3 separate regions of the Homo sapiens genome follow, and all the other regions are reported to be linked to region 3. The links are microRNA targets in miRTarBase. Many come from high-throughput screens and were not tested one by one. Region 3 holds a microRNA gene; each other region holds the end of a gene's coding sequence. Distances are between the middles of the regions.

Evidence for each region. Region 3 holds the annotated microRNA hsa-miR-3187-5p (CCUGGGCAGCGUGUGGCUGAAGG, at 1,127-1,149, opposite strand). A microRNA usually pairs through its seed, bases 2 to 8, with sites in the 3' UTR of a target mRNA and lowers its output. Matches are read on the target gene's strand: a 7mer-m8 pairs with bases 2 to 8, a 7mer-A1 pairs with bases 2 to 7 and ends in A, and an 8mer does both.
Region 1: miRTarBase lists RHPN2 as a target of hsa-miR-3187-5p. Seed matches in the 3' UTR shown: 7mer-m8 at 1,585-1,591.
Region 2: miRTarBase lists PDE12 as a target of hsa-miR-3187-5p. Seed matches in the 3' UTR shown: 7mer-m8 at 1,028-1,034.

What each region holds. Positions count from the first base shown.
Region 1 is chr19:32,977,362-32,980,712 of GRCh38, reverse strand. It overlaps RHPN2 (rhophilin Rho GTPase binding protein 2), which reads left to right. Exons shown (of 15, transcript NM_033103.5): 15 at 457-2,121. The coding sequence ends at 717. It overlaps FAAP24 (FA core complex associated protein 24), which reads right to left. Exons shown (of 5, transcript NM_152266.5): 5 at 2,484-3,351. Among named protein-coding and RNA genes, the nearest start is that of FAAP24, 6.8 kb to the right of the region's middle.
Region 2 is chr3:57,559,337-57,562,687 of GRCh38, forward strand. PDE12 (phosphodiesterase 12) reads left to right here. Exons shown (of 3, transcript NM_177966.7): 2 at 1-52; 3 at 226-3,351. The coding sequence ends at 668. Among named protein-coding and RNA genes, the nearest start is that of PDE12, 4.7 kb to the left of the region's middle.
Region 3 is chr19:811,739-814,738 of GRCh38, reverse strand. It overlaps MIR3187 (microRNA 3187), which reads right to left and starts at 1,155; the gene lies at 1,086-1,155. It overlaps PTBP1 (polypyrimidine tract binding protein 1), which reads right to left. Exons shown (of 15, transcript NM_002819.5): 15 at 2,427-3,000. PLPPR3 (phospholipid phosphatase related 3) reads left to right here. Exons shown (of 8, transcript NM_001270366.2): 6 at 1-47; 7 at 132-305; 8 at 844-2,251. The coding sequence ends at 2,169.

The DNA.
Region 1 (3,351 bases), 32 Mb from region 3:
ACCCTGTCTCAAAAAAGAAAAAAAGTTTGTCCTTGTTTTAAGAACCTAATTCTATATAAGCATTGGTCACCTGAGTTTCCGAATTATGTCTGTTCAATTTATTTTTTGGAGACAGAATCCTGCTCTGTCACCCAGGTTGGAGTGCAGTGGTGTGATCTCAGCTCACTGCAACCTCCACCTCCTGGGTTCAAGTGATTCTTGTGCCCAGGCTCCAAGCAGCTGGGACTACAGACATCCACCACCACACCTGGTTAATTTTTGTATTTTAGTAGAGATGGGGTTTCACCATGTTGGCCAGGCTGGTCTTGAACTCCTGACCTCAAGTGATCCGCCTTCCTCGGCCTCCCAAACTGTTGGGATTACAGGTGTGAGCCACCGCGCCTGGCCAAACTTCGTAGTTTTTATCATCTATCTTGATGATGCCTGACGCCCTTTTTCTTACTTTTCTATGTGCAGCATAATAAGAGTGCCACATACTCCGTGGGAATGCAGAAAACGTACTCCATGATCTGCTTAGCCATTGATGATGACGACAAAACTGATAAAACCAAGAAAATCTCCAAGAAGCTTTCCTTCCTGAGTTGGGGCACCAACAAGAACAGACAGAAGTCAGCCAGCACCTTGTGCCTCCCATCGGTCGGGGCTGCACGGCCTCAGGTCAAGAAGAAGCTGCCCTCCCCTTTCAGCCTTCTCAACTCAGACAGTTCTTGGTACTAATGTGAGGAAACAAACATGTTCAGGCCCTGAACATTTCCGGTGCTGACTCGGCCTTAAACGTTTGTGCCATAATGGAAAATATCTATCTATCTGTTCTCAAATCCTGTTTTTCTCATAGTGTAAACTCACATTTGATGTGTTTTTATGAAGGAAAGTAACCAAGAAACCTCTAGGAATTAGTGAAAAAAGAACTTTTTTGAGGTGTGTTACTATACTGCTGTAAGTTATTTATTATATAAAGTATTGTAAATAGAATAGTGTTGAAGATATGAAATATGGCTATTTTTAATGGTGACAATTATGACTTTTAGTCACTATTAAATTGGGGTTACCTATATCAGTACAATTTGTAGTTGTTTCCAGGTTTGGCTAATAATCATTCCTTAACCTAGAATTCAGATGATCCTGGAATTAAGGCAGGTCAGAGGACTGTAATGATAGAATTAAATTAGTGTCACTAAAAACTGTCCCAAAGTGCTGCTTCCTAATAGGAATTCATTAACCTAAAACAAGATGTTACTATTATATCGATAGACTATGAATGCTATTTCTAGAAAAAGTCTAGTGCCAAATTTGTCTTATTAAATAAAAACAATGTAGGAGCAGCTTTTCTTCTAGTTTGATGTCATTTAAGAATTACTAACACAGTGGCAGTGTTAGATGAAGATGCTGTCTACAAGGTAGATAATATACTGTTTGATACTCAAAACATTTTTCATTTTGTTTAAAGTAGAAGTTACATAATTCTATATTTTAAGTCTTGGGTAAAAAAGTAGTTTTACATTTTATAAAGTAAAGATGTAAATGATTCAGGTTTAAAGCTCTATTTGACTTCCTTTTTTTGTTTGAGATAGCGTCTTGCTGTGTTGCCCAGGCTGGAGTGCAGTGGTGTGATCTCAGCTCAGTGCAACCTCCGCCCCCTGGGATCAAGCGATTCTCCTACCTCAGCCTCCCAAATAGCTGGGACTACAAGGTGCCCTCCAGCATGCCTGGCTGATTTTTGTATTTTTAGTTGAGGTGAGGTTTCACCATGTTGGCCAGGCGGGTTTCGAAATCCTGACCTCAAATGATCCACCCACCTCAGCCTCCCAAAGTGCTGGGATTACAGGCATGAGCCACCACAACCGTCCCACTATTTTACTTTTTAAAATGACATTCCTACTGATTGATTTTTATCTTGCTATAAGTTCGATGACACCGTGAATCTAATAAGGTTCACTGTTGACACAGTACAAGTTACATAGCTAAAATACATAGCATTGAAGACTAATTTTAAGGATTGACAAGAGTTTATTTTCTATTGTGCAATATCTTAAAGGAAGCAACCACCTTTGGGAAAGTGTATCTGCTGCTCCTAGGGCCATGCTTGTATACATATTTAAATAAACATATTCATTTACCCGAGTTAATATTTCTTTTTACTTTTATTTCATTTTCATTCCCTCCTCTTTCAAATTGTTTCTCCCCAATGCACACAGTTTCTAATGTTCTGATTTTTTTAGTTACTAACATTTCACAAAGCAGAACTTAAAAAGCTGTCAAGTTATCTTAGTATTTTCTAAGACAGATGGTATCTTTGTGCTTATTTTTTGTTTTTGTCTTTTTTTCAAGACAGGGTCTCGCTTTGTCACCCAGGCAGGAGGACAGTGGCGCAATTGTGGCTCATGGCAGCCTCAACCTTCCGGGCTCAAGCAATCCTCCCACCTCACCCTCCTGAGTAGCTGGGACTACAGGCATGAGCCACCATGCCTGGCTAATTTTTTTGATTTTTTTGTAGAGATGGGGTCTTGCCATGTTGCCCAGGCTGATCTCGAAATCCTGGACTCAAGCAATCCTCCCACCTCAGCCTCCCAAAGTGCTGGGACTACAGGTGTGAGCCACTGTGCCTGGCCTGTGTCTATTTTTTGAATGGGCAATTTGTACCTTTTGATCCCCAGCCCCTGCTTCCCTCACTAGATGCAGCTGCTGCCATCATTTTCTTGTATCCTTCCATTGTTGGGCCTTTCATATACAAACACAGCCTGTTCTGCCTCATGCATGTTGAGTTTTCAACTTTAAATTTTTTTTTTTTTTTTTTGAGATGGAGTCTCACTCTGTCATCCAGGCTGGAGTGCAGTGGTGCAATCTCGGCCCATTGCAACCTCCACCTCCTGGGTTCAAGCGATTCTCGTGCCTCAGTCTCCTGAGTAGTTGGGATTACAGGTGTGTGCCACCACACCCAGCTAATTTTTGTATTTTTAGTAGAGACAGGGCTTCACCATGTCGGCCAGGATGGTCTGGATCTCCTGACCTTGTGATTCACCCCCCTTGGCCTCCCAAAGTGCTGGGATTACAGGTGTGAGCCACTATGCCCGGCCGTTGAGTTTTCAACTTTAAGTGGGAACTTCAGACTTCATACTTTCTGTGTGCAGAAGACATATGCAGTGATTATAAACAAACTGTACATCTGCCAAAAAAAAAGGCCGGGGGGAGGGAGGAACAAAGGAAAGGAGGAAGGAACTGTTGCGCAGTTATTTATTTACATTGGAAACAGCCCTCGCAGTACGGGTATATGAAGGCCAGACCTGATGAACAGCAGGTGAAACTCTGGGAACCCAGGGCTTAGGATACACAGTGCTTCCTTGTACATTTGTT
Region 2 (3,351 bases), not on the chromosome of region 3:
TCTTCTAAAAGGATATGTGTTGCTAATACCCATCTTTACTGGCATCCTAAAGGTAGGTTTTATTTGGTATCACAAGTGACTTAAACACGCTTAAAGTTGTTTAAAGTGTTTTACACAAATGCATATCTTGAACGTCACCCAGAGACTGTAATTTGTGTAGTTTTTCTTTTTTAACTTAAAGACAACTTTAAAAAATACTTACATTAATGTTTTTTATATTCATAGGTGGGTATATTCGCCTCATTCAAATGGCAGTAGCCTTGGCTCACATAAGACATGTTTCATGTGATCTGTATCCTGGCATACCAGTTATATTTTGTGGGGACTTTAATAGTACACCATCAACAGGAATGTATCATTTTGTCATCAATGGCAGCATTCCAGAGGATCATGAAGACTGGGCTTCCAATGGGGAGGAGGAAAGATGCAATATGTCTCTTACACATTTCTTCAAGCTGAAAAGTGCTTGTGGTGAACCTGCTTACACAAATTATGTTGGTGGCTTTCATGGATGTCTAGATTACATTTTCATTGACTTAAATGCTTTAGAGGTTGAACAGGTGATTCCATTACCTAGTCATGAAGAAGTTACCACCCACCAGGCCTTACCTAGTGTTTCCCATCCCTCTGATCACATAGCACTTGTATGTGATTTAAAATGGAAATAGATGTGTGTTTAATGGAATTGAAGTCTGAAAAGGAAGTAGTTATTTTAGCAGAAAATTTAATATGAATCAAAGCTTATATGTAAACTTCAAGGAGGAATGGTAAAATGTTCAGCCCTCCTAGTTATGTTCCTGATGTCTTCGTTATGAAACTGTTGATGTTTGCATCATACATCTTCTCTTTCCTTGTTTTCCTCTACAATTGGAGGAGAAACAAATATATTTCTTACTAGCAAAATAGAAAATTGAATTATTTTTCTCCAAATTGAGACTCTCAGAAAAGGAAGATTGAATTAGCGTGTTTTTTGTTTGTTTGTTTTTGTTTTTGTTTTTGTTTTTTTGAGATGGAGTTTCACTCTTGTTGCCCAGGCTGGAGTGCAATGGCACAATCTCGGCTCACTGCAACCTCCGCCCCCTGGGTTTAAGCGATTCTCCTGCCTCAGCTTCCCGAGTAGCTGGGATTACAGGCGTGCGCCAACATGTCTGGCTAATTTTTGTATTTTTAGTAGAAATGGGGTTTCGCCACGTTGGCCAGGCTGGTCTTGAACTCCTGACCTCAGGTGATCCACCCACCTCGGCCTCCCAAAGTGTTGGGATTACAGGCGTGAGCCACCGCACCCGGCCCTTGTGTACATTTTTATAAGAGAATTTTTTTAGCTAGGAGTTCAGAATTTTTAAAGTACCATTTGAATGATCTTAATTTTTCTTTCATGACAACACATTCCAAAATGAATCATGCTTATGTACTAAGAGGGAAAATGTATTTAAGTTAAGGGTGAGAGACTTAAGTTATAGGTGACCTTAGAGACCTAAGGTGAGAGACTTGACACATGGAAGGAGTAACATTAGGGTCTACCTCTACCTCAATTTAGTTAGCGATTTACTACAATTTCAGAGCTTTAACAAAAGATAAAAATAAATCGTCACCAATTGTTATTGCTTCTCATCTTTCATTTTTCAATGAACAAGTAAGGTATTTTCATTCTTATTTTTAGGATTTTAGTTTTTAGTGTATGGTACAAATGAACACAGTTTATATTCTAATTCTTACTGCAGCTCATTTTAATTTTTAGGATGCAAGCACAATTTAGTATTCAAAGTGAGTAGCAACATATTCAACTTGATCCCATTGTCTTCAGTTACTCTTGCCCATGAAAAATGTTCATAAATGAACAGGGTATTTGACCATATGATATTAGAAAATACAGCACATTACTTTATGAGAAACTACCTACTGATATGGGCTTGAAATTTTGGATGAATCATTGAGCATTTCTACACTAGAAGTAATTTCAAAATTGTTGGTTTTTATAAACAGGAAAAAGGTTGAGTAGTGGGACTTTTAAGCATCTCTGAAATAAAAAACTTCTTTTTACAGACAAGCATTATAGTTTGAGTTACAGACAACAGTGTGTATATATGTAATATATATATAGTAAAATGAAATTTAAATATGAAGCCAAACTTTTTAAAATTAGAAACTACAAATGGTTATACTGATTAGTGTCTAGCCTAGAGTGGTAACCATGCTTTACTAATTCAGTTATGAAATACATTATTTATAATGCATTAGCTGTATTAGCTGTTGCTTTTTTGATGTTCAGGATAACTATGTTATCTCATTTCTGCATTTAATTAATAGCTCGAGTATTAAAAGCCCACTCCCTTCAAGAAAAGCTTTGATTTTCCCCAGTCATGAAAGCCCTTGTTTCAAATTCTTTAATCTCTGAACCTAGTATCATAAGAATTTCCTCTTTTGATAACATCTGTACTTTCATATTCTGCTCACTATCAAATGTATTGTTAACACTTAGTAAGTTTGAAAATGAAGGGGTTTTATCTGCATTTGACATTGAACCTTGAAGTACTTTAAGTACTCCAAGGGGAAAATTAAAGTGGAAGTTTCTTCGGATCTTGTTTAGAAAAAACTATAAATAAAAAATTGATGCTACCAAATTGTGCCTTCCTAAATAACATTTTTGAGAGCATTTTAACAGCAGTTTACAAATATGTAAATAATAGATTAAAACCAAATCTTGATTCTCTTGTGAATTTTTTTTTCATTTTAAAAATATGTTTTTGGGCTGTTTTCAAAGAAAGATGTTGATAGAACCCTTAGAGTGACTTGGGAGAAAACAAAGTGTCACATCAAAAAGTTGAGAAACATTTTGAAAGAAAAAATTCGAACATGCCCATGAAAAAAGCATACAGCTTCCACATTAACACTGGCTAGATTAAACTCTAGTCAGAAAAACTCAGCACTTAACAGACATTCCATGTCCTATATCCTTAATTTTGATGTTTTCTGACTAAACAATATACTCAGATTGTATACAGGCATTTCACATTATTAGGACATGGAATGTTATTGTGAAGTGCCATATACTGTGATCAAATCTCCAGTATACGGATACGTTAAAATGATTGGAGTCCAAAGGTAGGGAACACTAAGAAAATGTATAAATAGCATACACATTTCTTTGTACTCATGAGTTAGAATGCAGTGTTATTCAGAAATGTCTGTTTAAAGCACCTATGTGATTGCATTTTTCTATTACATTTGGATTTTTTAGTACATTTAATTTTAAGAAAACATGGGAAATCTAGCGACTTTCTATGGTAAACCACATTTTATAATGTCACAAGTTCTTGCTATAGGAATTAACATTCTAGAATTTTATATTGA
Region 3 (3,000 bases):
CGTCCCAGCACGCCACGCTGTCAGCCTTCGCCGCGGTCTATGTGTCGGTGAGTCCGGCCCCTCACTGCCCTTCCCAGGCCCTCTTGCTGACCCGTGGGGAGCCCTCCCTGACCCCAACCCCCATGCCCCAGATGTACTTCAACTCGGTCATCTCGGACACCACCAAGCTGCTGAAGCCCATCCTGGTCTTCGCCTTTGCCATCGCCGCGGGCGTATGCGGGCTCACGCAGATCACGCAGTACCGCAGCCACCCTGTGGACGTGTATGCCGGCTTCCTCATCGGGGCGGGCATCGCTGCCTACCTGGTGAGTGGCAGGTTCTGATGGGGGTCGGCATGGGTTCCCAGGGGATCTGAGGGGGGAGGCATGAGTGCCCACAGGGCCTGAGTGGGGAGGCTGGCCCAGGGGTCTGAGGTGGGAGGCAGGCTCAGGGGGTCTGACAGGGGAGGCTGGTAGCCTGAGGGGTGAGGCATGGTTCCCAGGGGTTCTGGCGGGGGGCTGGCCCAGAGGGTCTGAGGGGGGAGGCATGGGTGCCCAGGGGCTCTAGGGGGGAGGCACGGGTGCCCAGGGTGTCTGAGGGGATAGACGTGGGTCCCGAAGGGGTCTTAGGGGGAAGGCATGGGTGCTGAAGTGTCTCGCCCTTGGAATGCTGGAGTCAGAATCCCGTGGGCTCAGACCTGCCCGATGTGCTGGGTCAGCAACCTTGGGGTGGGAACCGGTCCCACTGGACAAGAGCTTGCCAGCCCCCACCCCCGGTCCAGAGCCCCCCGCGGCAAGTCCAACGATCACAGGGGAGGAGCCCTCTGAGCCCCAGGCCTCACCCCCAGACCCCTCTCCCCGACAGGCCTGCCACGCGGTGGGCAACTTCCAGGCCCCACCTGCAGAGAAGCCCGCGGCCCCGGCCCCCGCCAAGGACGCGCTGCGGGCCCTGACGCAGCGGGGCCACGACTCGGTTTATCAGCAGAATAAGTCGGTGAGCACCGACGAGCTGGGGCCCCCAGGGCGGCTGGAGGGCGCGCCCCGGCCCGTGGCCCGCGAGAAGACCTCGCTGGGCAGCCTGAAGCGCGCCAGCGTGGACGTGGACCTGCTGGCCCCGCGCAGCCCCATGGCCAAGGAGAACATGGTGACCTTCAGCCACACGCTGCCCAGGGCCAGCGCGCCCTCGCTGGACGACCCCGCGCGCCGCCACATGACCATCCACGTGCCGCTGGACGCCTCGCGCTCCAAGCAGCTCATCAGCGAGTGGAAGCAGAAGAGCCTGGAGGGCCGCGGCCTGGGGCTGCCCGACGACGCCAGCCCCGGGCACCTGCGCGCGCCCGCCGAACCCATGGCGGAGGAGGAGGAAGAGGAGGAGGACGAAGAGGAAGAGGAGGAGGAGGAAGAGGAGGAGGACGAGGGCCCGGCCCCGCCCTCGCTCTACCCCACCGTGCAGGCGCGGCCGGGGCTGGGGCCTCGGGTCATCCTCCCACCGCGCGCGGGGCCGCCGCCGCTGGTGCACATCCCGGAGGAGGGCGCGCAGACGGGGGCCGGCCTGTCCCCCAAAAGCGGCGCCGGGGTGCGCGCCAAGTGGCTCATGATGGCCGAGAAGAGCGGGGCGGCAGTGGCCAACCCTCCGCGGCTGCTGCAGGTCATCGCCATGTCCAAGGCTCCGGGCGCGCCGGGCCCCAAGGCGGCCGAGACGGCGTCGTCGTCCAGCGCCAGCTCCGACTCCTCGCAGTACCGGTCGCCGTCGGACCGCGACTCCGCCAGCATCGTGACCATCGACGCGCACGCGCCGCACCACCCCGTGGTGCACCTGTCGGCCGGCGGCGCGCCCTGGGAGTGGAAGGCGGCGGGCGGCGGGGCCAAGGCGGAGGCCGACGGCGGCTACGAGCTGGGGGACCTGGCGCGCGGCTTCCGCGGCGGGGCCAAGCCCCCGGGCGTGTCCCCCGGCTCGTCGGTCAGCGACGTGGACCAGGAGGAGCCGCGGTTCGGGGCCGTGGCCACCGTCAACCTGGCCACGGGCGAGGGGCTGCCCCCGCTGGGCGCGGCCGATGGGGCGCTGGGCCCGGGCAGCCGGGAGTCCACGCTGCGGCGCCACGCGGGCGGCCTGGGGCTGGCGGAGCGCGAGGCGGAGGCGGAGGCCGAGGGCTACTTCCGCAAGATGCAGGCGCGCCGCTTCCCCGACTAGCGCGGCGGGGCCGGGGGCGGGCGGGGGGCGGGCCGAGGGCGCGGGCGGCCGCGCGGATGCTCAATAAAGCGGCAGAAACCGAGGTCCGGCTCTTGGTCATTCGCTCTGGCCCGCACGCCCCACGCAGGGACCCCCACTCTCAGGGCCGGGCCCACCCCGCCCGTGGCCCCACCTGGCGCTTCGGCGGACACCCGGGCGGGAGTCGGGGCCGCCCGCGGCACAGAAAGAGGAAGCCAGCAACGAAGGCGGAACGGAGCGAGGATACAGAAGATTTATTCGAAGTCCAGGTACAGACTGGCCAACCTGCCTCTACAGCGTCCACAGCGAACACAGGGCTAGACAAGGGAGGAGTTTCTCAAACGGTTTTAATCGGTTCTCTCCGCGTCACAAGCCATCGGGTAAGGCAACGGAATGTGCGTGGGGTCCCCTGTGGCTCCGCGGTCACAATACTGAGCCTGGAATTGCTGTTAGCAAAATATACATTTGTGTCACCATAAAAAACCGCGCCGCCGCCCCTCGGGTCTCACAACAGGTATAAAAAATTATAAATATTTACACCCTTGTTACACGCTTTTACGGAAAGGGGATCCTAGGAGAGCCCCCGGGACAGGACGCGGGGGCGGTAGAAAGAGCACAGAGAAGACAGGAGGAGCGCCCGCCTTCCGGGTCCCAGCATCAGAGGCAGGCAAAACACAGAAATGAGACTTTGGTCCAAAATTTGAAGGAAGAAAAAACCCTGAAGTTTGAGAGCAAGTTTTCTAGGCGACTGCAGGTGAAGGCGTGGTGTAAGGCAACCGGAGGCGATGCCAGAGGCGGCGACACGCCCGCCCC